Linked DNA regions of Homo sapiens: region 1 is linked to region 2. Evidence: fine-mapped expression QTL. Tissue or cell type: aorta. Region 2 holds a variant in brackets; the other region holds the start of a gene. All regions are shown on one strand. Distances are from middle to middle.

Region 1 (15,355 bases), 32 kb after region 2:
TCGAAGTCAGCTGCCCCAGGAAAAAGAGTACAGCTTGTGGCCACGACACAGAACAGGGCTAAATAGGTCATCTGAAGACAGAACCTCTGACCTTGGCCTTATTAGCACCCATGCAGAGGCCACCCAAGAGAGTAGGGATAAATGGCCACCCACTGAGGAAAGGAGTGGGCTAGGGAAGGCAGGCCAGGAGCGAAACATCCAGCAATTCTCCATCCCAGAGTGCGGGTGCTGCACGCTTACGCCAACGTAAATTCATCAGGGCACTTGTTTTACATTGGAAGTGCCAGGCACTGGGCTGAAGAATATAAAGACAAATAAGACCCCGTCAGCACCCTCCCTTGCGATGCTATGGTCTAGGTGGTATTATTTCAATTACGGATCTTCTCATCACTAAAGGTTAGGACTGGCAAATGAATGCCATTTAACAGGTACCATCTTCTCCTTCCTTTCCATTTATAAAAATAAGCATTTTAATTCTCATATTTACAGTTATAATGCTCAAGACAGTGAAAGGAAACAAAACATTAAGGAACTCATTAAATCAACCAGAACTTTTTTCCTTTTTAAAATTGGCCTAGAACACAAACTAAAAATTAACTTTAAAAAGAGAGACAAATATACTATTAAAAAGATGAAAAGCATGGTCACCCTCACCTGTAATCAAAGAAATGCAAATTAAACCAAAATGCCATTATTCACTTATGAGATGATTAAAGCTTTTAAAAAGCAATGCTTGTTGTTGGTAAGGGCATGAGGAGCTATAAGGGTTCTCCTGTTTGTGTGTGTATAAATGGTGGGGGGTGGGGGGTGCAGGCTATATGTAAATGAAAATGAGTATTTCCCTTCTTAAAAGTGATTAGCCAGGTTCACTGGCTCACACCTTTGATCCCAGCATTTTGGGAGGCTGAGGCAGGCATATCACTTGAGGTCAGGAGTTAGAGACCAGCCTGGCCAATATGGTGAAACCCCACCTTTACTAAAAATACAAAAATTAGCCAGGCGTGGTGGCGCTCACCTGTAGTCCTAGCTACCTAGTAGGCTGAGGTGGGAGGATCCTTTGAACCTGAGGTGGAAACTGCAGTGAGCGGAGATTGTGCCACTACACTCCAGCCTGGGTGACAGAGCGGATACTCTGTCTCAAAAAAAAAAGAAAAGAAAAGAAAAGAAAAGAATTATTAATATGTAACAAAATCTTTAAACATCTGAAACCCTATGGAATAATCTCACTTCTTAGGATCTGTCCTAATGAAATAATCAGAGATACACACTGTTTTGTATAAGGATAGTTATCCCAGTTTTAATTATGATAATAACAAAATTAGACTAAATGTCTAATTTAGTAAAAAAAAAAAAAATTCTGGGCCAGGTGCAGTGGCTCACACTTGTAATCCCAGCACTTTGCGAGGCTGAGGTGGGCAGACCACCCGAGGTCAGGAGTTCAAGACCAGTCTGACCAACGCAGTTAAACCCCGTTTCTACTAAAAATCCAAGAAAAATTAGGTGTAGTGGCATGCGCCTGTAGTCCCAGCTACTCAGGAGGCTGAGGTGGGAGAATGGCTTGAACTTGGGAGGCAAAGGTTGCAGTGAGCCGAGATCGTGCCATTGCACCTCACCCTGAGCGACAATGAGGCTCCATCTCAAAAAAAAATTCTGGTGCATCCATATAGTGGACTATAATATGTATACACATACATAAAATTATGTTTTCAGGTATACAACAGCACAGGGAAATGCTCGTGATACCACGCTAAATAATAAAGACAGGATACAGAACCCTAGATTCAATGTCATACCAAATTTGTTTATATACATATGTACTTGAAAGGGGAAAAAACACTGAAAGGAAACATACCAAAATGTCAGCAGAGGTGATGGACTCTGAGTTTTTGAAAAATTTCCTTATTTATACTTTACTGAATCTTATGATATTCTGTCATGAAATGTATTAGGTCCAATCATATGAAATTGTCATTTTGCAGGTCAAAAATAGTCAAATATTGGCAATTTCATATACTTACTATACTTAACTTTATATACTTAATATTAACTTAAGTATATATAACAACATATATAATATCCACATTCTTATTATATAATTTAATATAACAATATTGTTTCATCACCAATCATCATTATTCATAACTTAATATATTAACATATTACATAACTTAATTAAGTTATATATAACTATTTCATCATCAGAAAAAAACTTTCATAAATGAAATGCTGCTTAGGTTAGATGAGGAAAATGCATCTTTTTTTTTTTTTGAGACGGAGTCTCGCTGTCGCCCAGGCTGGAGTGCAGTGGCGCAATCTCGGCTCACTGCAGGCTCCGCCCCCTGGGGTTCACGCCATTCTCCTGCCTCAGCCTCCGGAGTAGCTGGGACTACAGGCGCCCGCCACCTCGCCCGGCTAATTTTTTGTATTTTTAGTAGAGACAGGGTTTCACCGTGTTAGCCAGGATGGTCTCGATCTCCTGACCTCGTGATCCGCCCGCCTCGGCCTCCCAAAGTGCTGGGATTACAGGCGTGAGCCACCGCGCCCGGCCGAAAATGCATCTTTAAAAATAGGTTAGGTATTTGGAAGCCTCAATGACAATAAAAGAAACATTGAAGAAAAGAATAAATGAGTAGTAAATCACATAAGGCTCTAGTATATGGTACATGTGCCTTATCTGCCAGAGAGACTCTTAACCTGTTTTCAGGAAGCCAAAATCACATGTGCTGCTGAAGAAATCTAATACAAGGTTACAACCAGCATTCTAAAAAGGTCTTAATTAGACATTGTTACTCCTCTAAAAGACCTAAAACTTTTCAGTTGTATTCACTGACATTCCATGCTTAAGATGTAATTGGTCCCTCAAATTGTTGGCAGTTCAGTGTAAATATCTCTTCAACTGACAACATTTAGGTCTAATGCTATGATTAATATATAACAAAGTACTTTCTTTAAACAAGAGGTAAATCACCAAGACATAAAACAAACCAGAATGGAGTATGTTGCTAACTGACACGTAGGTTTTTAATGCTTTCCACAGATTTTTTCCTAAGGGTAGAATTGTGTATTTTACTATGAACAATAGAATTGCTATTTCCCTTTCCAGTCTTAATTATTAAATAACGCAACAGTCCCAGTTGAAGTCCTGGGACACCAAGTTCTCACAGACTGCTGTTACCATACCACACGTGTGATGACCAACTCTGCCAAGGCAGTCAAGTTGTTAAAATCTCACAAGATGTAAAAAATCATACTTAATCTGTGAAGTAATCATTTTAGGAGGACATCCTTAGGTTTCTTTAAGGTGACAAAAAACAAATGAGTTGGAAAACTTGTGTCTAAGATCAAAAGGACCTTGGAACATTAATCTTGCTGGGGTGGATTGGTATTAAGGCATTTGTTCAAAAAAAGAGAAAGAAAAAGAAAAAAGTCCCCAACATTATGCACTGAATTTTTTTCCTAAGTATTATCCCTTCTGACTCCTCTTTTTTTTCTTTCCACAACTAATGTGAACACACACACATGCACTTACACACACTCTTTCTCCTGTCTTCTCTTTCACCTCTAAATTCTGTGTCACACAATTATTGCTTTGGCTAGCAATATTTTTATGAGACCTTAAGTACCTCATTAACATTTCTGAAAGATTAGAAGTCATTAAGAAAGGACTCAAACTGGATAAGATTTTTAAATCTTTTGGAATTTTTGGCTATTTGCAAAAATAGCTGTAAAACATCATCATAGGTTAGAGTTTTATTCCCTTATCATCATGTATGTCAAGCTCCACATGTAAAGATACCTTAAATATTCCATTAAACTTACCCTTCTTTTGGTTTTGTTTTTAAATATCTTCAGAATAAAAAAAAGCCAAGTCTTTATCAAAGTGTTTGACTTAAATTATTTCATATGATCTTTACATTTCTATTTATTTCCTAAGTACAAAAGTCATGTAAAGTGATTTCAAAAGTAAACACTGCAAAACTCAGTGCTTAAGTAAAAAGGAAAAGTTCCTAGTAACCCCACTGTGCCAAGAGATAACCAGTAGCAACAATCTGGTTTCTGTTTCTCTAACTATTCTTCCTACACAGACAAGTTGCTTGCTTTTTTTTTTTTCTTTCCTTCTTTGGAATGTATCTTGGTGCTTCTTCCTAATAGTATCTAAATTCTTTCATTTACATACAGAAAAAACAATCTTTACAGGTAAACTATAAAGACAACCAATAAGCCCAAAACTATAAGGATACTTCACGATCTGATAACAAATCTGCCAGCCTATTGATTTAACCAGGCTATTCCCAAGCATATCTATAGAAAGTTGTTGGGAAAGATATTTGGTTATAGATAATCCAAATTTTTAACAAGACATCTTCAATTCAAATCAAGATAATTGAGGTTTTAGTATCTGGGGGAGGGGTTCCTGTATTTTTCTAAACACCATTTAGTGTTTAAAGCATATATCAAAGCCCAACACCTCCCCTCCCTGGGCTGCTGGCGTTTGCAAGTCAGTGGACCTCAACATTCCTTCCATCAGCAGGCCCTTGAAACAAAGCACAAGAGCAAGGTTTTAATGAGAGAGATAACCCTTCTCATCCAAAGGAGGAAAAACAACATCTGTTAAAAACCCAAGTAAACTGCAGTAATGGGTTCAGCAATAGGCCCAGAGGACTTCAGAGAGATAGTCTTTGCTTATCAAAATAAAAAACACAATAGAACAATTGTTTCACTCCAACGCTCTGTGTTCTAAACGCTCTCCAGATTAATTAGCATGGAGTTTCGCCAAGCTCATTAAAAGAAAAACTAAGGACTCCTAAGGATGACTGGTGTTTACTGTCCTCCCAAACTGGCCAGTGAGAACTTGGGGGAGCCACAGACTTCTGGGCTTTCTGTACTGATAACATTTCTAGGATTTATTTTTAAATTGCATGTTAAAAATTAGACTACAAGAATCTTTTCATATTTACTTTTTTTAAGTGAAAAAATTGGTCCTTATTTATTTTCCTTGTGTACCTCCAACCCTGCTACATTTTATAGCTGCCGAACAATAGACCACAGGCTTCTGGAATCTGTGACCACTCGATGAGCTATTTGATAACCCTGATGACTTTGTCAAGTCATCCAGAGCATGTGGACACTCAGGCCAAACTTCTTTTTTCCCCGAAACAGGCTTTCTCCACCCACCCAAATCCCCTAATTCTCCTGGGCCTGCCAAGGGCCTGACCTTCCAGTCTCTGCAGCAAAGGGTGAAGTTTTACAGGAGGAAGGCCCAGCAGATTAAAGGCCTCTGTTCAACAAATATTTGCTCGCCCACTCCAGGCGGAGTAACAGTTTCTTACATGCTGCATGCCCACAGTGACACTTAGAGACTTCAGGAAGCTTGTTAAGCTGGTGACTAAGAATTAGACACCTAATGTCAAGGTAAATAATTAAGTCCCAATCCACAGACGTTATGGAAAACCAAACCACTTTAACAAACTCCCAATGTCACACGAAAACCAACACAAGTCCAATGAAATAGAATCTGCATATGATTTCCAAAAAAGCCTGTATGCATTCTTGCTTTGCCGGGTGGTCTTAAAATTCTAAAATGAACTGACATTCCCAAAGTTTTACCTGTACAGCCCATGACCCTCAGTTCACACCATGCAGACTGCCTTTTTTTGCCAGAGCATTTCTGGCTGCCCGAATCCTACCCATCAGGCCCCTTCCCCCAAATCCCTGTATTTTGCAACCCTAGCCCTCAATCTCTGGGTTATCTATTCCTTGTAAATCTGAAAAGACAAAAGACCGGAGAAGGAAAACAAGTTGTGGGAGAAACATCACATTAAACTGTCAGGACAGGAAACCCTGGGAGTTGTGTGGTCTGCACCGCCCCACCCCTCTCCCCAAGACTAAGACCAAGCTACTAGATTTGGGGAGGGAATGAGGACACGGGAGGCGGGTGGAGTGCGTGCGGGGGTGGGAGAGTGGGTGTAGGTGTGGGGAGGTGATGTGCCCAAGCTAATTCCCCCAAGGCCTCTCTACTCCTTAAGCGCGTGGATGACCAAACACCAGGGCATGCCCAGGTAGCGCTGGCCTAAAGTTCTCGTTTTTATTTTCTTCTTCAGTAGTGAAATCACAGCTTCTTTACAAATGCCCAGAAGAATCCCAGGCGCTCTGCTTCTTGACGGAAGCGAGAGGGGCGCTTTTTAGCAGCTAGTGCTGGGCCCCACTGTGGCCAGGGCATCGAGGCAAACCCTGGCATTTTGGGGGTGAACGGACCCCGACTGGAGACGGGGGAAGTAGAGGGTGCCCGCGGAGATCTGAGCGCAGAGACCCTAGGAGGGCGGGTTCCAGATCCCATAAATGAGATAATTAACGGGATTTACAGCACTCCTAGGCGGGGCTCCTGCCCTTCTCCCATCCCACGCGCAGCCAGGAGCCGGGCGGCCCCGGGCACTCGCTGGGAGGCAGCTGCGATTAGCGCCCTAATCCCCAGCGCAGACCGCGCAGAGACCGGAGCGGGAGCGGGGCCGCGGCGGGAGCCCCCCACCGTCCCGGGCAGTCCAGACGGCCGGGGCAGCGTGGGAACTGGGACCTCGGGGACCCAGCGCGGCGGCTGTCAGCTCTGGGGTGAGGTCCGCGAGATCTGGGCGCGAGGGCGCGGGAGGGGTTGGTGGACACAGGCTGGGGAGGGCGACTTCGAGAGGGGAGTGAGTGACCCCGGCCCCCCAGGCCCTCCGCGCGCCGAGGGGCGACGCGAGCGCTAACGCCAGCCGCGGCCCGCGGTGCCCGCCCCGGGACCCCCGCGCTCCGAGCGGGGCACCTGAGGGGAGGGGACGCCCCTCCCGGGCTGGCAGGCGCCCTCCACCCCGAGGCTGCCGGGCTAGGCACCGCGCGGGGGGCCCAGGCGGGGCTGCGACTGGGGGTGCAGACATCCCCCACCGCCAGGGTGGCTGGAACCGGAGCGACGTCCCAGCTGGAGAAGTTGGGGGGAGTGCGGGAGGCTGCGGGTGAGGCCCGCGAAGCGCCGTGGGAGCGGCCCTAATGGACGGTGGGAGCCAGGAGGGTTAGACGCCGGGACTTACCGAGCGGCTCCCTCATGCCGCCTCGCGCCGCCACCGCCGCCGCTCCGGCCGGCCGGGGACCAGCGCGACCCGCCCCGCCTGCAGCCGCCGAGGCCGAGCATGCCCGGAGAACCGCCGTCCGCCCCGCCCACCGCCCGGGCCCGCCCCGCCCACCGCCCGGGGCTGCCTCCTCTGCGCTGAGGGCGGTATCCAGGCCACGAGCTTCCTAGGCTTTTGGGGTCCGCCTGCGTGGGTCGCGCAGAAGGCACAAGTGAGCTGACCACCATTCCCTCTTTTCTTGTCACTTGGGTTTGGGCCACGTCAACCCTGTGGAAATGTCCAAAGACACACACACTCTCACAGATACACAGAAAGCAAACATATTCATATCACACAAACACACAAAGATGTATGCAAACACACTCATATACACCCACACACAGATGCACACAAACACACTCACAGGAAACAGGCGCACACAAACACATATACAGGACACACAGGTGCACACACAGTCACAGACAAGTGCACACACACTCAAATACAGTCACACGCAGGTGCACACAAACACACCCATATACAGTCACGCACAGATGCAGCCAAACACACTGACACATATACATACATACATGGGAACACAGTATGGCTATACACACACACACACACACACACAAACGCACCCACATAACACATCGATATTATGAAGAGCAGAAAACAGTGATGGTGACAACAGCTTGGGATTTACTTCTTTCAAAAAAAAGTCTGAAGGAGTCTGGAAGCCACCTTCAGATCAGCTGGCCCATACTCTCCTGTGGCAGAGGAGGAAACTGATGACAGGAGCAGGATTTGCCTACAGGGCAGGGGTAGGAGGAGAGATAGGAGGAGGTCAGTGGGAGAGTTCAGACCAGAATGAACATTTGGGGTCATTTGGGTAACCCCAAACCCACTCCATATTTCTCTTACAGCGGGAAGGGGCAGAAAGATTAGACTGCTGCCTGGGTCTGCTCAGGGCGAACGTTTTCATAATTTTGGAAGGCAGACAGAAGACAAAAAATGTGAAATATTGCTGATGCATTGGGGAGAGACAGGGAATGTTAGTTAAGTCCACCCAGACAAAACATGGATGGCACAGCAGACTGGTGACCTTGCCAAATTAGTTTTCAGAAAACTACTTAGCCACATCATGATTTTAGGACTGTATTTGCTGTCGAAACACCAATAACTAACTTTTTTTGCTCTATTACCACATCTGAGCCCTTCCTATGTATTATTTCTTTTAATCCTCATCACAGTTTGATGATATGGGCACCACTTTACAGATGAGGAGTGGGCTCAGGGACGGGCACAGATGGCAAGCTGCAGAATCTAGCCCAAGACCCTCGCTCTGAACCACCAGAGCAAGGTCGTTTCTTTGTTCTCTTGAATCATATGTTCCTCATGGTTAGTAGCAACGTATAATCTAACACAGCATAAAAGCTAAACACACTATTGCTGGAAAAGAACGAACAATGTAATTGAATGTTGTATTGTGCATTATCAGGAGTGCGTGGGAGGAAACCAGATGGTGGCGATAGGAGCAGGCAGCATGATTAGGGGCTCGAGAACCAGGTAGCTCAGGTCCCGGGCTTGGCTTCTCTGCCACTTTCTAGATGTGGTACTTTACTTCTGTTAGCCTCACTTTCCTCTCTAACAAAGTGGGGGTAATGATGGTTTGCATCTCATAGGAGAGTCATGAGAATTCAATGAGATGATGCCTTCTTATCACTTAGTTCAGGTACATGTAATAGTCAAGAAAATGGTGGCCGGGCATGGTGACTCATGCCTGTAATCCCAGCACTTTGGGAGGACAAGGCAGGCGGATCACCGGAGGTCTGGAGTTCGAGACCAGCCTGGGTAAGATGGTGAAACCCCATCTCTACTAAAAATACAGAATTAGCCGGGCGTGGTGGCAGGTGCCTGTAATCCCAGGTACTCGGGATGCTGAGGCAGGAGAATCACATGAACCCGGGAGGTGGAGGTTGCAGTGAGCCAGGATCATGCCACTGCACTCCAGCCTGGGCAATAGAGTGAGACTCTGTCTCAAGAAAAAAAAAAAAAAGAAAGAAAAGAAAATAGTAGCTACTACCATTAACACTTGTACAGCTACTGCTGTTTGACTTGGAACCACCAGGGAAGACTTTGAAGGACAAGTGGATTGTGGCTAGGGAGAGACACAAAGGCTGGGAAAATAGGATTCGACAAAATTTAAAAGATAGAAAAGGAAATGCAGACTTTTTTTTTTTTTTCTGGGGAGTCACAGTTATTAACAGCAGTGATATTACTTCTTGTCAAAAAAGCATCATTCGATGATGGATTTCTTCAATGACTTATAGAATTCCTGTTTCTCCTCAATTTGCCAACTCAATGAAATAACTTTGTCCTGGGGTGGAGCACCTCTATGTGCCCAGCATGGTGCAGACACCTAGGGAGCCAAGTATTCCTGCTAGAACATTTATCAGTCAGTGAATTGAGATTAGGATGTGTTTCCCCACAGAACAATGTCATATTGTTGGGTTTCTAGGTCAACCCCATGGAAGTTTTATAATGTACCTAAGGGCTGTAGAGTTGCAAAACAACAGAGTAGGGTTGCAGTAAATCAGAAAACAACACTGATTCAATGCTAGGAGCTAAGCTAAACCAAACCAAATCAAGTTTAATAAGAAATTGTATTTTAGCAGAAAGGCTGGCAAAGGCAGATTCAATTAGGGGAATGTAATGGGATTGAAATACTGGAGATTCTAGAGAAGATGACTTCACAATTTCAAGATGCTTGTAGTTTCTTGACCCTGGCTCTTTATCCTAACATCCTCATTTCAAAATGTTTGGCTTCCGTCTTTCCTCAGTACTGATGTATCCCTAGCCCTGCTCTAATGTTTTCCTGGCATGACTAAGGCCATTTCAAACAAAGAAGCAGAATGAAAAGATGGAGAGAGAAGATGGTGGTGAGGCTGTGGATGTGGGGAGAGGGGCAAGCAGAAAGGTGGAAAGCTTTTCTAAAGATCTGGGAATAGAATTAACAAAGAGGAAAGAGGGTGTATTATTCTATTCCCATGCTGCTAATAAAGACATACCCAAGACTGGGTAATTTATTAAGGAAAGAGGTTTAATGGACTCACAGCTGCACATGGCTGGGGAGGCATCACAATCACGGTGGAAGGCAAAGGAGAAGCAAAGGCGCGCCTTACGTGGCAGCAGGCAAGAGGGCATGTGCAGGAGAACTACTCTTTATCAAACCACCAGATCTCATGAGACTTATTCACTATCACAAGAACGGCATGGGAAAAACCCGCGTCCATGATTCAATTACCTCCCACTGGGTCCCTCCCACAACACGTAAGGACTATTACAACCCAAGGTGAGATTTGGGTGGGACACAGAGCCAAACCATATCAGAGAGTAAGGTTGAAAAGATGCATGAGTATGAGCAGGTGATTAATCATAAATGTAGGAAGATAATAAAGATAAAAGGTAATGAGGAAAATCCACTGGGCCAGTTTCCACACCGGTCACCAGTACATGGACAAGGGATGGTGGGCAAGACGTGAGAGAAACAAGCCTAACCTCCTAATTCCCTTATCCCTACCCACTCCCATTTTCCTGCAATTTGGGTCTCTTGCTTCCACTTACTTGATCTTGGGAGATTTAAACACAGGAAAAAAAAAAAAACTCGCTTATGTGATGTAAAATATAAACTATGATTGAAAACAGCATTTAACATGAAGCTGTTAGAAGTCTGGCACAGCCCTGGGAGCATGTGCCAGGATCCAGCCCTGGATGCCCAATGTCCCCGCCTTTCTTGAGTCCTGGAGAAGGGATTTCACAGACTCAGGAAGGAACTTGGATTATTGAGTCATTGGGCAGATGTGCAGTAACCAGAAAAATAATGTTTAACCGCCTGCTTAAAGAAAGAAAAAAAATAAAAGCCAAGATCTTGTTTCTCTAACTTACTGCCTGTTCAAGGACCTAGAGCAACCCTCCTCCCTCCCTGCTTTAGGGCCCTTCTCTGTAGACTATAAGGTTTCCTTTAGCTGATTTAGATATTGATTTTGTTTTTCTTAGTCTGTAAAGACACTACCAGTTCTCATTTTTTAAAAGATTAACGCTCTTTTAAAAAAAAAATTTGTTGTCTTCACTGACACATAATAATTGTACATATTTATGGGGTACAGTGTGATGTTTTGATGCTTGTATACATTCTGTAATAGTTAAATCAGGGTGTTTAGCATATCCATCTGCTATAGTTTGAATATTTGTTTCCTCCAAAACTCATGTTGAAACTTAATCCCCAATGTGGCAGTGTTGAGAGATGGGATCTTTTTTTTTTTCAAGATGGAGTCTTGCTCTGTTGCCCAGCCTGGAGTGCAGTGTCGTGATCTCGGCTTACTGCAACCTCCGCGTCAGGGTTCATGCAATTCTCCTGCCTCAGCTTCCTGAATAGCTGGGATTATAGGCAAGTGCCATCGCACCCAGAAAATTTTTGCATTTTTAGTAGAGTTGGGTTTTCACCATGTTGGCCAGGCTGGTCTCGAACTCCTGACCTTGCGATCTGCCTGCCTTAGCCTCCCAAAGTGGTGGGATTACAGGTGAAAACCATTGCGCCCAGCCCAAGAGATGGGATCTTTAAGAGATCATTGGATCCTGAAGGTTCTGCCCTCATGAATGGATTAATCTATTCATGGATTAATAGATTAATGGGTTAATGGATTAATGGGTTATCATGGCGGGGAACTGGTGGCTTTATAAGAAGAAGAGAGACATGAGCTAGCATGTGAGCATGCTCAGCCCCTCACCATGTGATGCCCTATACCACCTTAGGTTGACTCTGCAGAGTCCCCACCTGCAAGAAAGCTCTTACCTGATGCAGCCGCTTGACCTTGGACTTCTCAGCTACAAGAAATAAATTTCTATAACTGTAAAAAGTAAATTTCTTTTCTCTATAAATGACCCACCTGCGGGTATTCTGTTATAAGCAATGGAAGGACTAATACGCCATCACCTTATACATTTACCATTTCTTTGGGTTGAGAACATTCAAAATCCTCTCTTCTAGCAATTTTGAAATATACAATACACTTGTTAGCTGCAGTTACCCTTCTGTGAGATAGAACACCAGAACTTATTCCTCCTAAATGAAACTTTGTACCCATTGACCAAAAAAACCCCACGTTCTCTCTTTTTTTTTTTTCTTTTGAGATGGAGTCTCGCTCTATCACCCAGGCTAGAGTGCAGTGGTGTAATTTCAGCTCACTGCAACCTCCACCTCCCAGGTTCAAGCAGTTCTCCTGCCTCAGCCTCCTGAGTAGCTGGGATTACAGGCACGTGCCACCACGCCTGGTTAATTTTTGTATTTTTAGTAAAGACGGGGTTTCACCATGTTGGTCAGGCTGGTCTCGAACTCCTGACCTCGTGATCCACCCGCCTTGGCCTCCCAAGGTGCTGGGATTACAGGCGTGAGCCACCGTGCCCGGCCAAAACCCCACATTCTCGATAAAACCTTGAGGTCTCTCTTGTTGGCTTGTTTTAGAAAGTCAGGCAATAGTGGTTACACAGAAACTGGCAAGGATCTTGTGAGGATAGAGAGTATATTGGTGGGTACCAGAGGCCAGGAAGGGTGGGTTTGGATAAAAAGAAGCTGATTAATACATACAATATACACTTAGAAGAAATAAGACCCGGCATTTGATATATCAGTACGGTGTCTATAGTTAACATTAACCAATTGTTCATTTCAAAATAGCTGGAAGAGAATACTTTGAATGTCCCTAGCATAAAGAAAAGATAAATATTTAAGGTGATGGATGTCCCTATTACCCTGGTTTGATTATATGAATTTATCAAATTATTACATGGATCCTGAAAATATCTACATCTAATATGTATTAAATAAATAAATAAAAAGCTGCCAAATTGAAAAAAATCTAGAAAGGATTTTATGTCAACAAGTGCTAATAACACTTGTTTTTAGTTATTGCTATGCTTTATATTAATTCACAGACTATATCGCATAATTTTTTTTTTTTGACATGAACTCTCACTCTGTCATTGAGGCTGGAGGGCAGTGGTGTGATCACAGCTCACTGCAGCCTTGACCTCCTGGGCTCAAGCCATCTTCCTCCCTCAGCCTCCTAAGTAACTGGACTATAGACACACACAACCATGCCCAGCTAATTTTTGTATCTTCTGCGGAGACGGGCTCTCCCTGTGTTGCCCAGTCTGGTCTTGAACTCCTGGGCTCAAGCAAAGTTCCCACCTTGGCCTCCCAAAGTGGTGGGATTAGAGGCATGAGCCACCATGCCCAGCCCTGCATAATTATTTTTAACCAAGAACTAGAAATCTGTTTCTCAAAGTCTGCTCCATGGACCACCTACACCAGGATCAACTGGGGGAGGGAGAGTTGACTAAAGGCCAAATTCCTGGGCCTCATCAAACCGATGCAATCAGAATTTCTAAGTTCTACCTTTGAGATCCTGGAATGTGTACTTTAAGGAAATGCCCAGATGATTCTCACATACAGTAAAGTGTGAGAAGCAGGGATGGAGCACAATAAATAGAAATGATCTGTGTCAAGAGAGGAATGGATTGATTGACACGTAGTATACAGTGCAAAGACAGTAGCCGTGAACGTCATTGTATGATGATGGAGAGTCACATAGCAACATCCTTCACTAATCAAGTGCATTAGATGTTTACTGTTGGCTTAGAAGATTTGACGCTAACTGAAACAAAACCTACAATGCTGGGGACCAAGAAGAGAGTGACAAACAATTTTTCAATCCTATACCTCCACTGTGAGGAGATTGAATCTGCATAGTTACTGCATGAGAAAAATCATTTCTAATTGTTTGCTCTCCTCGTGTCAGCTTGTTCTCACGTAAAGCCACATATTAATGGAAAACAACTCTGTTACACTCACCGTAGCAAAGAGCTGCTGTTTACTAGTGGTAGAAAGACATTCCAAGCTTCCCCCTGCCTGCAGTTTATAAAATTCTTTGCCAAATTCATAAGGAGGCCTCTTGAGCGGTGGTGCCCTCCAGGGAATGGCAGTGGCTGTCAGGGATCCCGCTGGTACCGGGGGGATGCCAATGTGGCTTCAAGCAGACAGGGGTGTGGCCAGCACCAGAGTGGTCCAGACGTGGGCACCCCTTGGGCTGCCTCTCCCACCATTCCATACCAGCTAATCAAGAATAAATCAAAATTAACTCAAGCATTTTTTAACCCCATATGACTTTTTGTTTTTAAAATGGGAAATAGGCTGGGCTCCGTGGCTCACACCTGCCTCAAGTGACTGAGGCAGGCAGATCACTTGAGGTCAGGAGTTCAAGACCAGCCTGGCCAACATGGTGAAATCCCTTCTCTACTAAAAAATATGTGCTTGTAGTCCCAGCTACTCAGGAGGTTGAGGTACAAGAATCACTTGAACCCAGGGGGCACAGGTTGCAGTGAGCCAAGATGGCATCACTGCACTCCAGCCTGGGCAACAGAGTGAGACCCTGTTTCCAAAAAACTAAAAAATAAAAATAAATGGCCAGGTATAGTAGTACATGCCTATGGTTCCAGTTACTCAGGAGGCTGAGGTGGGAGGATTGCTTAAGCCTAAGAGTTCAAAGCTACAGTGAGCCATGATCATGCTACTGCACTCCAACCTGGGCAACACAGCAAGACCCTGTCTCAAAAAAAAAAAAAAGAACTATGCAAATAACTGTGAACTACATTAATTGTAAAAAGAATGCCTCCATTTGGGGAGAGAATGGTGTATCAGGCTTTTATTAAGTCAGTGATGCCTAGCAATACAAGGTGGAAGGGAGAGATGAGAACTACCTTTTTTCTGTTTTTTTTTTGAGACAGGGACTTGCTCTGTTGCCCAGGCTGGAGTGCAGAGTGCAGTGGCACGATCTCGGCTCACTGCAACCTCCGCCTCCCAGGATCAAGCGATCCTCCTGCCTCAGCCTCCCTAGTAGCTGGGACTACAGGCATGTGCCACCATGCCCAGCTAATTTTTTGTATTTTTAGTAGAGACAGGGCTTCACCATTTTGGCCAGGCTGGTCTCGAACTCCTGACCTCAGGTTATCTGCCCACTTTGGCCTCCCAAAGTGCTGGGATTACAGGCGTAAGCCACTGCAACTGGCCAAGAACTATCTTTGTTTTAATGTTTCTTATGTGCCAGGCACTGGGCTAGGCCTTGACTTATGTCCTTCGATGTACAAAAGGGTAGCACTTACTAGCGGGGTTGTATGGTTTTGAAGTACAGTCATGCATCACTTAATGATGAGAATAC
Region 2 (15,355 bases):
ACAATCTTTTCTGAAATCCATCTGGACAACTGTGCATTAAAAAGGCCATAGACATTCCAATTTTTCCAGCAGCAAAATGTCTTACACATCCTCCTCACTCCTTTTCAACCTGGCTGAGACAGATGTATGATACAACAGGTATCACGACTGTGATGACTGAGACAGCATTCAGAGTACTTAAAGCCCTACATTACTACCCAGATGGGACAGTCTCTGCATTTAGGAAAAGAAGTTTGCTCAAACGTCATCAGCTGCACGCAGGAATAATCTGGCTAAAAGGAAGGGGAGTTCACATAAATTCTTTCTGACTGTTGATGCTTAACAACATCCATGAAACAATATAAGACATTAATAGCTGGGTGCTTCATTTCTGTGCTCAATCAGCCTCAGAGTGTTCACATTCTGAGAGGGTCCTCCTGTGAGCAAAGGTGTCTTTTTCTCCATTGAGAATAAGGTGTGCGGTCATGAAATTATGAGAACGTGTGGAAGTCACACTTCGGCTAGTGGGAGCACCTGTTATTAAGATGCTTAGTTTCTTCCAGGCTAAGCCTCACATTACATAACACTAGGCATGGAACAGGCCATGCCATGTCTGTCTGTACCACCCCACCCAACACACACACCCTTCGAGACCCTTACTATCTGTGCTGTGTTGTACCTACCATCAAGTGTCTTTAGATTACAGATGGTCATTTCAGCTCACACCTTTTTAGTGGTCTTTTGTGCCAGGCACACTAGAGACACCTCCACAGGACACACCTGCTGCCCACAGTCCCCTGGCTCTTTCTTCAGCTCATGGACTATCCAGGTCCAGTAAAATTATAATGTGGGCCACAAAACATTATTTTTTAGAGACAGGGTCTCACTCTGTCACCCAAGCTAGAGTGCAGTGGCACAATCACAGCTCACTGCAGCCTCAAACTCCTGGACTGAAGTGATCCTCCTCCCTCAGCCTCCCAAGTAGTTGGGACTACAGACATGCACTACCAAGCCTAATTTTGTTTTTCAGTTTTTGTAGAGATGGGGGTCTCGCTATGTTGCCCAGGCTGGTTTTGGGCTCAGATGATCCTCCCACCTCTGCCTCCGAAAGTACTGGGATTACAATCATGAGCCGCCATGCCCAACCATCATTATTTTAAATGTTCTAGTAGCTATGTTGAAACACATAAAAATAAACAGGTGAAATTAATTTTAATACTGTATTTCACCAAATATATTCAAAATATCATTTCAATATGTAACCAATATAAAAATTATTGAGACATTTTAGATTCTTTTTTTGTACTAAGTCTTTGGAATCTGGTGTGTATCTTACACTTACAGCACATCTCAATTTGCATGAGCCATATTTCAAGTGCCCAGTAGCTGTATGTGATGAGCGGCTACAATATTGGACAGCACAGGTCTAGAGGGTAGGGTGGTTACCCGGAGAATTTAGAATCCTGTTTCCTGTGGGCTCCATTTCAGCTGAGGACAACTCACTGAGGACTGCCCTGGTGGGTATTTCACACATTAACGCCCTCAGAGATGTGCTAACATCTAGCCTTCTCATGGCATGATCTGGTATCATGAAGCCTTCCCCGATTTCCCTCATTTTGGGCCTCACACAGATATCTCTTCTCATTCTTCCCCTGGACTCATATTAACAGAGTTTGCAACAGAGGATGATGGAACCAGGAGGTTCTGTGTACGATCAATGCCTGGGATGACACTTCCGAATTGGAGCATCAGTCATCCAGCAAAGATGGGAGTCTGTGACCCGAACTCGTTTTGGGCTGTTGATTTCTTAACCAGAGGCATGAAAGACCACTAAAGACATGTGAGCTGAAACGACCAACTTTAATCTCAAGACACTTGATGATATGACAGGCACGGCACAAGGGTGTGTGTGTAGGGTGGGGTGGTGCGGATAGACATGGCATGGCCTTGTGTTACAGTGCCAGAACAGATGCTTGAATTTAAATGGGCTACAAATTTAGGAGCAATGAAGCAGTTCTAGCATGCTGGGGTCATGGGGGCAGCAGTGCAGTGGGGAAGAGATGAGGATTCTTATGTTTAAAATGATTAAATACATCAAAAGGAAAGCAAAGTCCAAGCGCTTCTCAGTGACTTAACAACAAGGCTTTACTCTAACTTGTGAAGCAACAGTGAGCGGAAAAGTGGACATACGTCAAAAGTATTACTACCTCCATCATATGACCTCAGTTGCTCTCAAGACGAGTGGTTTTGAATATTGAGGCCTGGTGACCATCACATGAAAGGCCCACAGGGGGCCACCTGAGCAAAACAAATGTAAGATATCGTCCCTAATGGTGCTCTCCCCTCCGATTATGGTCATGCGCCACAGAACAACATCTTGGTCAATGACGGGCCACATAGATGACAGTGGTCCCATAAGATAATAATGAAGCTGAAACATTACTGTCATCTAGTGACGTCATGTCATAGTGCAATCAATTTTTAAACAAATGTGGTGTAGCCTAAGTGTACAGGGTTTATAAAGTCTACAGTAGTGTAGAGGAATTTTCTAGGCCTTCACATTCGGTCACCACTCACTCACTGACTTGCCCAGAGCAACTTCCAGTCCTGCAAGCTCCATTCATGGTAAGTGCCCTACAAAAGTGGTCCTTTCTTTTTTTTTAATATTTTATGCCATATTTTTACTGTGCCTTTTCTTTTTGTTTTTTTGGAGATGGAGTTTCACTCTTGTTGCTGAGGCTGGAGTGCAATGGCGCGATCTCAGCTCACTGTAACCTCTGGCTCCCGGGTTTAAGCAATTCTCCTGCCTCAGCCTCCCAAGTAATTGGGATTACAGGTGCCTGCCATTACACCCAGCTAATTTTTGTATTTTTAGTAGAGACAGGTTTTCACCACGTTGGCCACACCAGTCTTGAACTCCTGACCTCAAGTGATCCACCCACCTCAGCCTCCCAAAGTGCTGGGACTACAGGCATGAGCCACCACGCACGGCCTGTACCTTTTCTTTAGATATGTTTAGATACACAAATGCTTTCCATTGCGTTACAATTGCCTGCAGTATTCCATACAGTAACAGGCTGTACAGGTTTGCAGCCTGGGACCAATAGGCTCTACCATGAAGACTAGGTGTGTAGTAGATTCTACCATCTAGGTTTGTAGAAGTGCACTCTCTATGGTGTTCACACAATGACAAAACTGCTAATGATGCATTTCTCAGAGTGCAGCCCCATTAAGCGACGCATGACTGTACTTGAAAATGCCCGAGGAAGCTGTCAACATGAGTGGCTCTCTGCCTGCAGATTTTTGGCCATTTTATTGTATATTAGCAAATGCATCAGATGGAGAGGAGAAAAAAATAATTAAATTTTCTGCTTGTTAGTAGCAGTGGTTAAAAAAAAAACCCAAAAACGTCATGAGGGAGGTGTTGTTAATAACTGGCTAAAATTAAAATTTGCATTACCTGGGTGTTTTTAGATACCTACTGGACCTTCTCACACTAAATAGTCAAGTTAAAAATTGAAGGAGTGCTTTTCTGAACTGGAAATTTTGTGTTATCAAATACTCCCTAGACTGGGCACCATAATTGAGGCAGGAGGATTGCTTGAGGCCAAGAATTCAAGACCAACCTGAGCAGTGTAGGCAAGACCTCATCTCTACAAATAACTAAAAAAATAGCTGAGTGTGATGATGCATGCCTGTAGTCCCAGCTACTTGGGAGGCTGAGGCAGGACAATCGCTTGAGCCTAGGAGTTCAAGGCTACAGGGAGCTATGATCATGCCACTGCACTCCAGCCTGGGCCACAGAGTGAGACTCTGTCTCAAACAAAACAAAACAAAAAACCTTCCTGAAATAGGTTTCCATGAACTGAGACACAGAAATATTTACCAACTGGTACTGTATTATAACAGGATTTATTTGTCTTATTTTAAACTCCTTACAATTTTCAGGAAGATGTAGGACTGAGAAAATCATCCTGATTTTATAGATGAAGAAAACTTGCTTTAGAAGTCTATGACAAGTTTTAACTAACCTTAAAGTCTAGTGGGCATATTTTTTGAGGAGGAAGGGGGACTGCAGAGGAATTATGCTGAAGGCTACAATAAATCCAGAAAGCTCAAAAAATGGGCAGGTAACCCTTTTCCTACCATAATGGCAAAGCCTTCACATTCTCAGTATTCTCTACCACTGCAAAGGCCCAGCTTGTCCAACTAGAGGATCCAACGGGGCCCCGACGAAGGATTATTTCAATCATGTGTTTTGCATAAGGAGCAGAGAAGCAACACTGGCTAACACCCCTAAGAATCCCACTGTATTTGGGGGAAACTTGAGAGTGCCCATGTACATTTTTTTTTTTTTTTTTTTTTTTTTGAGACGGAGTCTTGCTCTGTCGCCCAGGCTGGAGTGCAGAGGCACAATCTCGGCTCACCACAAGCTCCGCCTCCCAGGTTCACGCCATTCTCCTGCCTCAGCCTCTTGAGTAGCTGAGACTACAGGCGCCCGCCGCCACGCCCAGCTAATTTTTTGTATTTTCAGTAGAGACGGAGTTTCACCGGGTTAGCCAGGATGGTCTCGATCTCCTGACCTCGTGATCCACCCGCCTCGGCCTCCCAAAGTGTTGGGATTACAGGCTTGAGCCACAGCACCCGGCCCTACATTTTTTTGTTCAATAGAAATCTCTGACTACTTCCAACTGAAACAACAGCTCTTTTCTATCTGCTTCAAAATTCTTGGGTTTCAAAACAGAAAATAGAAAGGGGTGGGAGGAGCAGAACCACCTGCTGGAGACTGGGTAGGAAGAGGGAAGGGCCCAGCTCAGGAGAGGGCATTCCTCTAACTCAACTCGTAAGGACCAAGTTTTTCTTTTCCCCTTACTGTAAAAGGCTTGGACTGGGCCGGGCTCAGTGGTTCACGCCTGTAATCCTGGCACTTTGGGAGGCCAAGGTGGGTGGATCACCTGAGGTCAGGAGTTCAAGACCAGCTTGGCCAATATGGCGAAACCCCATCTCTACTAAAAATACAAAAATAAACTGGGCCTGGTGACACACGCCTGTAGTCCCAGCTACTCAGGAGTCTGAGGTAGGAGAATCGCTTGCACCCAGGAGGCGGAGGTTGCAGTGAGCCGAGATCGTGCCACTGTACTCCAGCCTGGGGAACAGAGTGAGACTCTGTCTCAAAAAGAAAAAAATGGGAAGGGGAGGGGAGGGGAGGGGAGGGGAGGGGAGGGGAGGGAGAAAAGGCTTAGACTAAATGACAGAAGGTCCCTTCCAGTCCATGGCTTATGATGTGGATCTTTTGACATTTATCTCAACTCTTCTACTGATCACCTGAGCTCAGGAGTTCGAGACCAGCCTGAGTAACATAGTGGGATCTCGTCTCTATAAAAAAATTAAAAAATTAGCTGGAAATGGTGGTGCATGCCTGTGGCCCCAGCTACTCGGGAGGCTGAGGTGGGAGGATCACTTGAGCCCAGGAAGCAGCGGAGGTTGCAGTGAGCAGAGATTGCACAACTGCACTCCAGCCAGGCGACAGAGTGAGATACTATCTCAAAAAAATAAAATATACTGCAAGATCTTGAATTTTAAAGATGGCTTCTGGATAATTCTTCGAAAATGAGGAATCTTTTGATAAAACAATTCCCAGGGTCAACTTGATCTTTTCTGAATATGCAGATTTACATTATCCACCAACCTGGTATTTTGTACTGACTAAAAACTCCAAATGTATACTGAGCACCTGCCTGTCTGCCTGATTCCTCACCTGGGCACCAGAAGTCTTGATCCATGCTCTTCTCCTTTTGTGCTGCCGGATGCTCCTTCTCTTCCCTGGAGATGCTGTCCTTGGACACAGAGAGTGAGTGGCCCAATCTCTGGGCACGGTCCCCACTGCCAGGAGACACAAGGCCTCCCGGGAGCCCGGCCTGGCCCCTTGTGGTGGCCTTCAATTCCTCGGCGTCCTCCTGGGAGTCGGCATTCCTGAAGCTCAGGACTCTCATCCGTGACACTGAGCTCACCTCTTTCATTCTCATCAGGCGGTCAGGGTCTGCTCTCCTAGGCGGGGAGGCCAGTTTCTCTTGTAAACTTTCAATCACTTTGGAAGGGCTTCTAAGTCTCTTTTCAGAGCCTGCCACACTTGGGGTTCTTTCTACAAAATGGAATAAAGTGGACCTGAAGGGTGGTTTTGTTTCCACATCCTTTTGTTCGAAGAACTTGGACTCCAAGGGGCTGGGCTCAGGCTCAGGGACAGGGTCTGTGCTGGTGACAACCCCGTCCACATCTGAGTGCTCAAAAGCCTGAGGAGCCCGCCTGGCACTGTCCCTGTCCCCTACAAAGAGAGGGCTCTTGGTCCAGCCGCACTTCCTCCTGCCATAAAAGGCATCAGTGGACACCCTGGGGACATCTGCCGGTGCTGGGCGAGATAGCAACTCTTCCTGGGGGGACTCTGGGGTGCAGGCACTTGCATCGGGCTCAGCAGGCTGGTTCTGTCCCGCTCTCCGGATGCCCGGCAGGAGGGACTCCACCGCCACCTCAATGCCCAGGATCCTTGCAGCCCTGGCTTGCAAGGACTCACCTGGGGGGATTTCTATTGTGCTTGCTTCACCCAAAGACCCCTCTAGCTCACTGGCACCCTGTTCTTGCCCAGGGGTGAGCCCCACAGACCGTAAGTCTGGAGCTGAGAGCCCTCGGTTCTTGTTAGACAGGGACAGTGGGAGCCCTGCCCCCCTCTCTCCACCACTGTCAAACTTCCGAGGGACCGCTTCACTTGGTTTCACAGAGCTGAAAGCACTGGTGATTTTCGGACTTTCCTGGGGCTCCCTAGGTTCAGCTGGATAGGACGCGGGCAGTGGTTTTGCGTCACTTGATCTTGAAGACATTCTCGTCACAGGAAATGGGCTACCTGCCAGCTCGTCCATTCCGTTGCTAACCTCCAGGTGTCTCTTCTCTGCACTCGTGCTTCCATCTGCTGAGCAGAAAGGTGCACCGCCACCTTCTTCCACGCGAAAGCGGCCCGGGGATGGAGGCCAGGCACGTGGGTGGCCAGGCTGCAGCTCCTCACTCCAGCTCTCAGACTTACTCTCACCTCTTCCCGACCTACACACAGGGCTCTCCGGCACCCACATCCTCGGCTGTGGCTCAACCCTCATTTCCGGGCTGTTTCCGCGGAAGCCCACATCCTCCTGTCTGCAGTGAGCACGGTTCTCCTGCTGCGGCTCCGCCTCACTCTCCTCACTGCTGCTGCTGCTGCTGCTGCTGCTACTGCTGCTTTCTTCCTCTTCCTGGAGCTCCTTGTTAAAACTTTCTAACTGACTGATCAAATCCCAGGGACGACGGCTGACCGGTTTCAGGAGAAACTGCCCAAAGAGTTGTTTACTGTTGCAAGGGCCCGTGGGCTCCCCCTTCACCACCTCCCGCTTAGGCCCAGGGTGGGCTCCAAGCCCGTGGACATCCACGCAGGGCTGACTTCGGCCTGCTTTTGGCGTCGGTGCCTGGTCCACGGACAAGGAAGTCCTTGAGAACGCACTGTTGCTGGATGGGCTGAGGGACCTGTGACCTTTCAGGTTACGGGCACTTGGCCTCTGTTTGTGATCACCGGTAGGGAATGCTGTGTGCGTCTGAGCTTCGGAGGCAGCAGGGTCTGAACATTTTGGACTCAATGCTGCACGACTCGGCCCTCCCAGCTTTGCACCAGGGAGCAGCTGCGAACTTTGGGGCTCCTCGGAGAAACTGGTTTGTGTTTGCTGATCTCTGTACCGGTGCCCTGGCCAAGAGCCAGAATGCTTGAGTTCTCTGTGCTTTGTAAG[G/A]TGGATGAAACTGAGGTCATTTGTTTGTCTGTCTTCTTCTGGTTCCCCTAGATCTTGTTTTTGGAACTCCGTTCTCCCACCCATGCTTCCTGTGAGGGCCTGCAGCTCCAGGTCGGTGGAAGACATGCTCAGCAGACTCTGTTCTTGCAGAGCCGGGCTCTTATCAGACCCATTCTTTTGATCAGCACTGGGCTTTAAGTCATTGTTGTCCATATCTCTATCTGGCAGATGTGATTCTGATTTCACTGGGATAGAAACCAAGCAAAATATAGTCTCGTTCATTTTTTTCTTTGAACTTTTCTTGGTCCGAGTCCCAGTTTGGAACTTTTTGAGCTTGGTTTGAGTTTCGCAGGTGCTCTCGCCCTGTGAGTAAGGGGAGGAAACTTGTCTTCCAGTGTGCCCGTGCTGGCTGCCTCTCACATCAGGCCACTGTCCCCTTGCCACACAGCGGTCTCTCTGGTTGGGGAGGCCACTGTTTTCCCCATCCCCGGGGGGCTGGCCCCACAGCCACCGGGGGCTGGAATCGGCCAAGACCAGGCCTCTCTCATCCCCCGACGGGGGTATTAAGCTCTGTGGATTCCAAATGGCACCATCAGGCTGCATTCCTCCATGAGCCGGCTCTTGAGCAGTGACAGGACTGGAGTTATATGATTTATCGTCAAGCTTTATGTCTTCACAGAAACCCTGGGGCTGAGCTAGTTTAAAATGTCGTAACCGTGGATCATCAAAGGGAATGTACTGAACGAAGCCGTCATAGGCAGTGACAGGTCGGGGATGTGCGGGGAGCCCCTGAGGCAAGCGGGGGCTCACACCATACTCATTCCCAGTTCCAGGGGGGCCTGAAGGAGGCTGACCGCTGGCCCCAGCCTTCTCGGTCGGAGACTGCTGTTGACTGTGACCGCCACACACATTTATGGGCACCGTGTCTTCCAAGTAGGGGTTTGGGATGTTCTGCGGGGGCGATCTGTATGAGGGCGGAGGCACGTACACTGGAGGTTCCAATCCAGGGTCTGACAGGCAGAGCTCATGCCTGGGGACATAGGCGTCCATCTGCTGGCTGTCCTGAGAGTCACTGCTGTCCGCTCCTCCCCTAGACTGCTGGTGCGAGCTGTAAGATGGGGGCTTGAGGGGCCTCCCAAACTTAGGCCGGGGAAATGGGGCTGAGCAGCCACTCTTCTCAGAATTCCTCGTGGAGTCCAAATTTGGTGCGCAAGTGGGAGGATACGGTGGCATTTTAGGTGAATGTCTTTCATTTAATGGAATGGGAATTTCCGTGCAACTCAGGCTCTCGGGGGAAAGAACTCTAGGCAGTGAGCGAGACTTCCCTTTGTTTTGAGAATTCAACACATGTTCTCCTTGAATGAATGGGTACAGGTCTTGAAACAGTCTCTCCCCATCTCCATCAGACATCTGCCTCCCTAATTTCCTTGGCTGGTTCCAGCTTTCCAGGCTGACGTTCTGCCACTTGGCAGGACCTGACATTCGCAATTCTTCTTCCCAAACTGGCTTCTTCATCACATGCTCTGACCTTCCTCCAACTTCCCATGGACCCTCCCTCACGTGGACAGGCAGGCTGTGGGCTTGGGCCATTCCTCTGGCCTCCAGGTTTTCGTGCTCCCTCGGCTTCTGGCTCCTGGCTTCTTGCCGTCCTCTTCTCCGGTAGGCTTGGTCGTTACCAGTCGGGGGATGAGAGGACCATGCTGAGGGGGGTTGATTACAAAACCTACAAAACAAAGAGTCACAGACGTTAGGCACAGAAGAAACATGTCTTCATCTGCTTCTGTGACTGGCATTCGAAGTCAAACTCAGGTCAGCAACTTTGAAAACTTGGTTCCCAGCCACAGTACTTGCCAGCTTGAAAGAAAACATATCCCATTAATTATGGTTGGAAGACAGCCACGTGTTTTGGCATCAAGGGCCAAGAAGGGGCAGCAGTGGGCAGCCCACAAGAATACAGGGATGTTGGGTGTACTCCAGCGATGTCAAGGTCCTTATAAACATTAAAATGTCTGGTGGAAGGCCGGGCACCGTGGCTCATGCCTGTAATCCCAACACGTTGGGAGGCCAAGCTGGGAGAATCTCTTGAGGCCAGGAGTTTGAGACCAGCCTGTGCAACATAGTAAGACTCTGTCTCTACACAAAATTTAAAAATCAGCCAGGCATGGTAGTGCCCACCTGTCTCAGCAACTCCAGAGGATGAGGTAGAAGAATTGCTTGAGCCCAGGAGTTCGAGGCTGCAGTGAGCTGTGATTGCGCCACTGCACTCCGGCCCGGGCAGCGGTGAGACCCTGCCTCATAAGGAAAAAAAAATGCCCAAGGGAACAAGGGTTAACTGTTCAGTAGTATTTCTCAAGGTGTGGTCTTGGACCACTTGCAGCATATTGCCGGCTCAGTCCAGACCTCCTGTGCAATCTCTGGGAGGGAATCTGGGAACCTGCTTTTAAAAACACTGTTTTTAAGCAAGGGTTCTGAAACTTTAGTGAGAATCAGAATCACTGAGTCCTGGAATTGCTAAGAGAGAGATTGCTGGGTCCCATCCCCAGCTTCTCATCTGGCGGGTCTGGAGAGGGGCTCTATAATCTGCAAGTTCCCAGATGATGCTGATGCTGCTGGTCCCAGGGCCTTACTTTGAGAATCATCATTGCTGGTGGTTGTTCACCCTGACTGCACATTAGAATCCAGGAAGACTTCAAAAATCCAGATGCCAGGCAGTATCCTAGACACATTACATTACAATCTTAAGACGTGTGGGTGGTAAATGGAGGGCGAGGCAATCAGGCATCCGAGACTCTCCAAGTGTCCCCGGAGATTCCCAGTGTGCAGCCAAGATTGAGAAAGATGTCTCTAGCAGAGTCCCCTCATCTCTCTGATGGTAAGCATCACCCAGTGGGCTTGTAAAATATACACATTACCAAGTCTCTCCCACTGAAAGTTCAGACTTGGTAGGTCTGGGTTAGGGCCCAGGCATTTGTATTTATATTTTTATTTATATATTTATTTTTGAGACAGGGTCTCACTCTATCACCCAGGCTAGGTGCAGTGGTGTAATCATGGCTCACTGCAGCCTCAAACTCCTGGGCTCAAGCAATCCTTCCACTTCAGCCTCCCAAGTAGCTGGGACTGACTACAGGCACTCCATCATGTCTTGCTAATTTTTAAGATGTTTTTGTAGAGATGGGGTTTTGCTGTGTTGTCCAGTCTGGCCTTGATCTCCTGGCCTCAAGAAATCCTCCCACCTCCGCCTCCTCATGTGTTGGGATTACAGACATGAAGCACCATGCCTGGCCCATCTGTATTTTTTTTTTTTTTTTTTTTTTTGAGACTGAGTCTCGCTTTCGCCCAGGCTGGAGTGCAGTGGCACAATCTCGGCTCATTGCCACCTCCGCCTCCTGGGTGCAAGCAATTCTTGTGCCTCAGCCTCCCGAGTAGCTGGGATTACAGGCACCTGCCACCACACCCGGCTAATTTTTGTATTTTTAGTAGAGACGAGGTTTCACTATGCTGGCCAGGCTGGTCTCCAACTCCTGACCTCAAGTCTTCCGCCCACCTCGGCCTCCCAAAGTGCTGGGATTAGAGGAGTGAGCCACTGCGCCCAGCCCCATCTGTATTTTTTTTTTTTTTTTTTTTTTGAGACGGAGTCTTGCTCTGTCGCCCAGGCTGGAGTGCAGTGGTGGGATCTCGGCTCACTGCAAGCTCCGCCTCCCGTGTTCACGCCATTCTCCTGCCTCAGCCTCCCAAGTAGCTGGGACTACAGGCGCCCGCCACTACGCCCGGCTAATTTTTTGTATTTTTAGTAGAGACGGGGTTTCACTGTTTTAGCCGGGATGGTCTCGATCTCCTGACCTCGTGATCCGCCCGCCTCGGCCTCCCAAAGTGCTGGGATTACAGGCGTGAGCCACCGCGCCCGGCTCCATCTGTATTTTTAACAAGCATTTCAGAGGATTCTTATCCTCAATTTTGGGAAACACTGCTAGGGCTTACATTGAGATTGTCTAGAGGAAGAGGGGAGCCCTGTTCATGGGGTGAAACTCTCTGCAAGGCAGGAAATGGTAGTATCAAATGCAGGGTGTTGTTCACTACTGGGCCACACATTAGGATTTCCTTGTGAGCCTTTAAAAAATACCAAAGCTCAGGGCCCATCTCCAAATATTTGGATTTAATTGGTCTAATGAGGAGCCAGTATATTTCAAAATCTCCCAAATGACTCTAGCATGCGGGGAGAGTTCAGAATCACAGTTCTAATGCAACCAAAGGAAAGTATCTGAAGAACATAATGTGCAGAAATATTAAGCTACTACCCATGAATGATCAGAGACTAGGGCCATGTAATAGGGAAAAACCATTAACTGGAAGGAAGTTCAGGGGACTCAACAGTTTTGATTAACCATGGGCCGGGCTGACTTGAAAAATGTTTCAAGTCTAGGATAGCTGTTTGCTTTTTAAATTATTACAGTAATGGATTCATTGTTGAAAATGAATGTTGGAAGAATATAAAAAAGTACAAAAAACAAAAATTGCTTATACTCTTTCTACTCAGAGATGGTTACTTTGATACATATCTTCTCACCTGTGTGTGTGTGTGAGGATGTGAATTTTTGAACAGCCTGGGTATTCTACTAGATATCTGGTATTATGTGAACATTTCCTGACACTTGTAGCACAAACAGCAGCAGCTGCTTACACGGTGGTTGCTGTGTGCTAGGTCCAAGCCATGTGCTTTCTGCAAACTAACTCATTTAAGCTTCACCAACATCCTTCTGAGGTAGAAGCTACTGTCAATACCACTCTACAGAGGAGGAAACTGAGGCACAGGTGTTAAGTAACTTGCTTAATACTAACATCTACTGGGCACCCATGCTGTACCATGCATGGTGCTAAGCATGCCAAGTGAATTATTTCATTTCAACGTTATAATTACCACTACTTCCCGCTTTTACAGATAAGAAAACTGAGGCACAGGTAGGTTAAATGATTTCCCCAAGTTACACAGCCTGCAAGGATTTGTGAAAGAGCTCTAAGCCAAGAAATGTGAACCTAAAACGCTCAATTAACCCTGCATTTTACTTCTTCCAGTGTAATGAAAACGCCCTCAGGTGCTTAATGTTCATGGATGAATTGTATTCCCTCACACACACAGGATTTACTTAACCCTTTACCAGTGTTGGACATTGATGTGGATTCTATTCTAAAACACTTTGAAAAACACTATTGTTCACAAACACGTGATGTAGGTCTCAGATCATTTAGAGTAAGTCCTTAGAAAAGAAGTGAGTAGATCATGGGGTGTTGTGTGATGCATGTTGTCAAACTGACCTTAGATAAACTATCCAATTTATAGTCCCTCCTGTCGTGCAGAGGAGAGCCGGTCTTGCTGAACCTTTTCATCCCTAGTTATTACAACTATTTTTCCCCATAACTTCTCACTACTTTAATTTGCATTTCTTTGATTACTAGTGAGGTCGATTTCTTTTTCCCCATGTGCTTAGGTGTTATTATACATTTTGTGGTTTCGAATGATTCCAGCAACACAGTCTGCTTTTCAGCTGGTGGCACAGCAGAGTGAACACAACATGAAACTGGGAGGTGCAAGGCCACCAGTTCTATGCAGCAACAGTGCGTGAAGCCTGGAAGAGTCCCTGCTGGGGCCTGGGCTGCAGGAGAGCCCTTCCAATCACAGAGGCAGAAGGCTGTGGGCAGGAGCCCTGGTAAAAACTTCTATTTTTATTGCTACTATTCTTATTTTGGAATTACCTCTTTGCCTTAAAAGGTAAGGATAGCCCCTCAAACTCTGTATCCAAGGCCGGGTGCAGTGGCTCATGCCTGTTATCCTAGCGCTTTGGAGGCTGAGGTGGGTGGATCACCTGAGGTCAGAAGTATGAGACCAGCCTGGCCAACACAGTGAAACCCTGTCTCTACTAAAAATATAAAAATCGGCCGGGTGTGGTGGCGGGCATCTGTAATCCTAGCTACCCGGGAGGCTGAGGTGGGAGAATCGCTTGAACCCGGGAGGAGGAGGTTGCAGTGAGCTGAGACCATGCCACTGCACTCCAGCCTGGGCGACAGAGCAAGACTCCATCTCAATAATAATAATAATAATAATAATAATGATAATAACAATAATTCTGTATCTACTTCTACCCCCTGTTAACTTGTTAGGCAGTCATTTACAGCAAAGCTTAGTTATGGGCTGGAAAACCAGAAAATATCCAAAATCAATCTGAGGTAAGACATTTGCCACTGAGCAGCCTCAATGCTTCTGTGTTAACGACCTGTACATGGTATAAGACCTGTACTGTCTTAACACCGGGCACGGTAGGAGGTCACAATTTCTGTGTTGCTTTTGTTGTCATTGAAATTATGTTTTGAGCATTTGGGTTTTGAATGCTGAGAAGACTGCTTCCTGGTCAGGTTCGACACAGATTAGTCATTTTGAAAGCCATCGTCACTGGCCCCTCTGCATAGCCCCTTTCCTCCCTCCCTCCCCACTTTAGCTGAGCCAGGCTTGCAGCTCCAGAAGCCACAGAGTCCTCCCCTGGGGACTCCTGTGTGACCGCCCATCAGTAGCCTGAGAAATGCTGTAGAACATGAACCACTGAAAAGTCTTCAGCACCTACTGTCTATAGGCTCCCAGACTCTATAGAAAATCCAAGGGCAAGACTTAAAAACTACCATGTAATAAGGCATTACAATTGTTACACCCCACTGTGAAAGGCTAAAAGAAATCATTAGGAAGTATGCGGTTGGTGCTTTGCATCAGAAACAATCTACCCTCTTACCTCTGCTCTTAGGCTGATGGTGAGTAGGCTTTTATGAAGCACCGTTCTCATTCCTGACAGTCCTGTGAACGCTTTCCTGGATTGCATGACTTTAGGGAGGAAACCGTACCGTGTGGCTTTGACGCGTTTTTCTCAATTGATATTCGGGTTTCACAGTGTGCTTAGAGAAGGGGCTAAAATCCTAAGGTGCTACTTGTGCAAGTACACGCCACGAGCATAATCAGAAGACAGATAAAAAATGACAGAAATAGGACAAGAATACAAACAGCCTGTCACTTCCTACAGAGGGAGCGTGGTTGGTTTTCTTCTCCACCCAAAAATGTTACACTATCACTTTAACTTTGTCAAAACTGCCATATATAACAAACCAAAATAACTAAGAATTTTGGGTTAAACTTCCTTCTGTTTGCACAAGGTGCCAAAATTCCAATTTAATAAAAATACAGGTCATCCGGGAAATTTTAAATTATCTACTTTGCAACGCAGTCCACATGACATAGAAAACTATAAACCATTTAATTAATAAACATCTATTTTGTACCTAGCAAGGGCTGGGCTCTGACAGGTGCAAGCGGACTCCCCATGGGGGTCGCTCTGGTAGATTTCTCCTTCAGACAAGTTAGCAAGAATGGCTCTTCTAGTAGCTTCGCTATAGGACGCCCATTACCAGCTAAAATGTGTACTGCTGCATAGGGTTTCAAAGCCAAAAATATATTTTCTGATATGTTTAAGGAAATGAGATCAAATTTTTCTTTTTAGAAAAATGAAACTAATTATCTTACATTTTAAAAGACATTAACA

The links.
Region 1: JCAD starts here. The variant in region 2 is fine-mapped to the expression of JCAD in aorta (GTEx, PIP above 0.99).

The regions. Positions count from the first base shown.
Region 1 is chr10:30,052,421-30,067,775 of GRCh38, forward strand. It overlaps JCAD (junctional cadherin 5 associated), which reads right to left and starts at 7,166. Exons shown (of 4, transcript NM_020848.4): 1 at 7,062-7,166. LOC101929256 (a long non-coding RNA gene) reads left to right here and starts at 6,418. Exons shown (of 4, transcript XR_001747405.2): 1 at 6,418-6,606. RefSeq lists an enhancer at 4,287-4,824 and silencers at 7,109-7,278, 10,720-11,014.
Region 2 is chr10:30,020,366-30,035,720 of GRCh38, forward strand. JCAD (junctional cadherin 5 associated) reads right to left here. Exons shown (of 4, transcript NM_020848.4): 3 at 5,738-9,501. Among named protein-coding and RNA genes, the nearest start is that of JCAD, 32 kb to the right of the region's middle. RefSeq lists enhancers at 6,974-7,033, 7,214-7,283, 8,002-8,731, 8,732-9,460, 14,228-14,824. The variant G/A (reference allele first, on the strand shown) is at 7,779.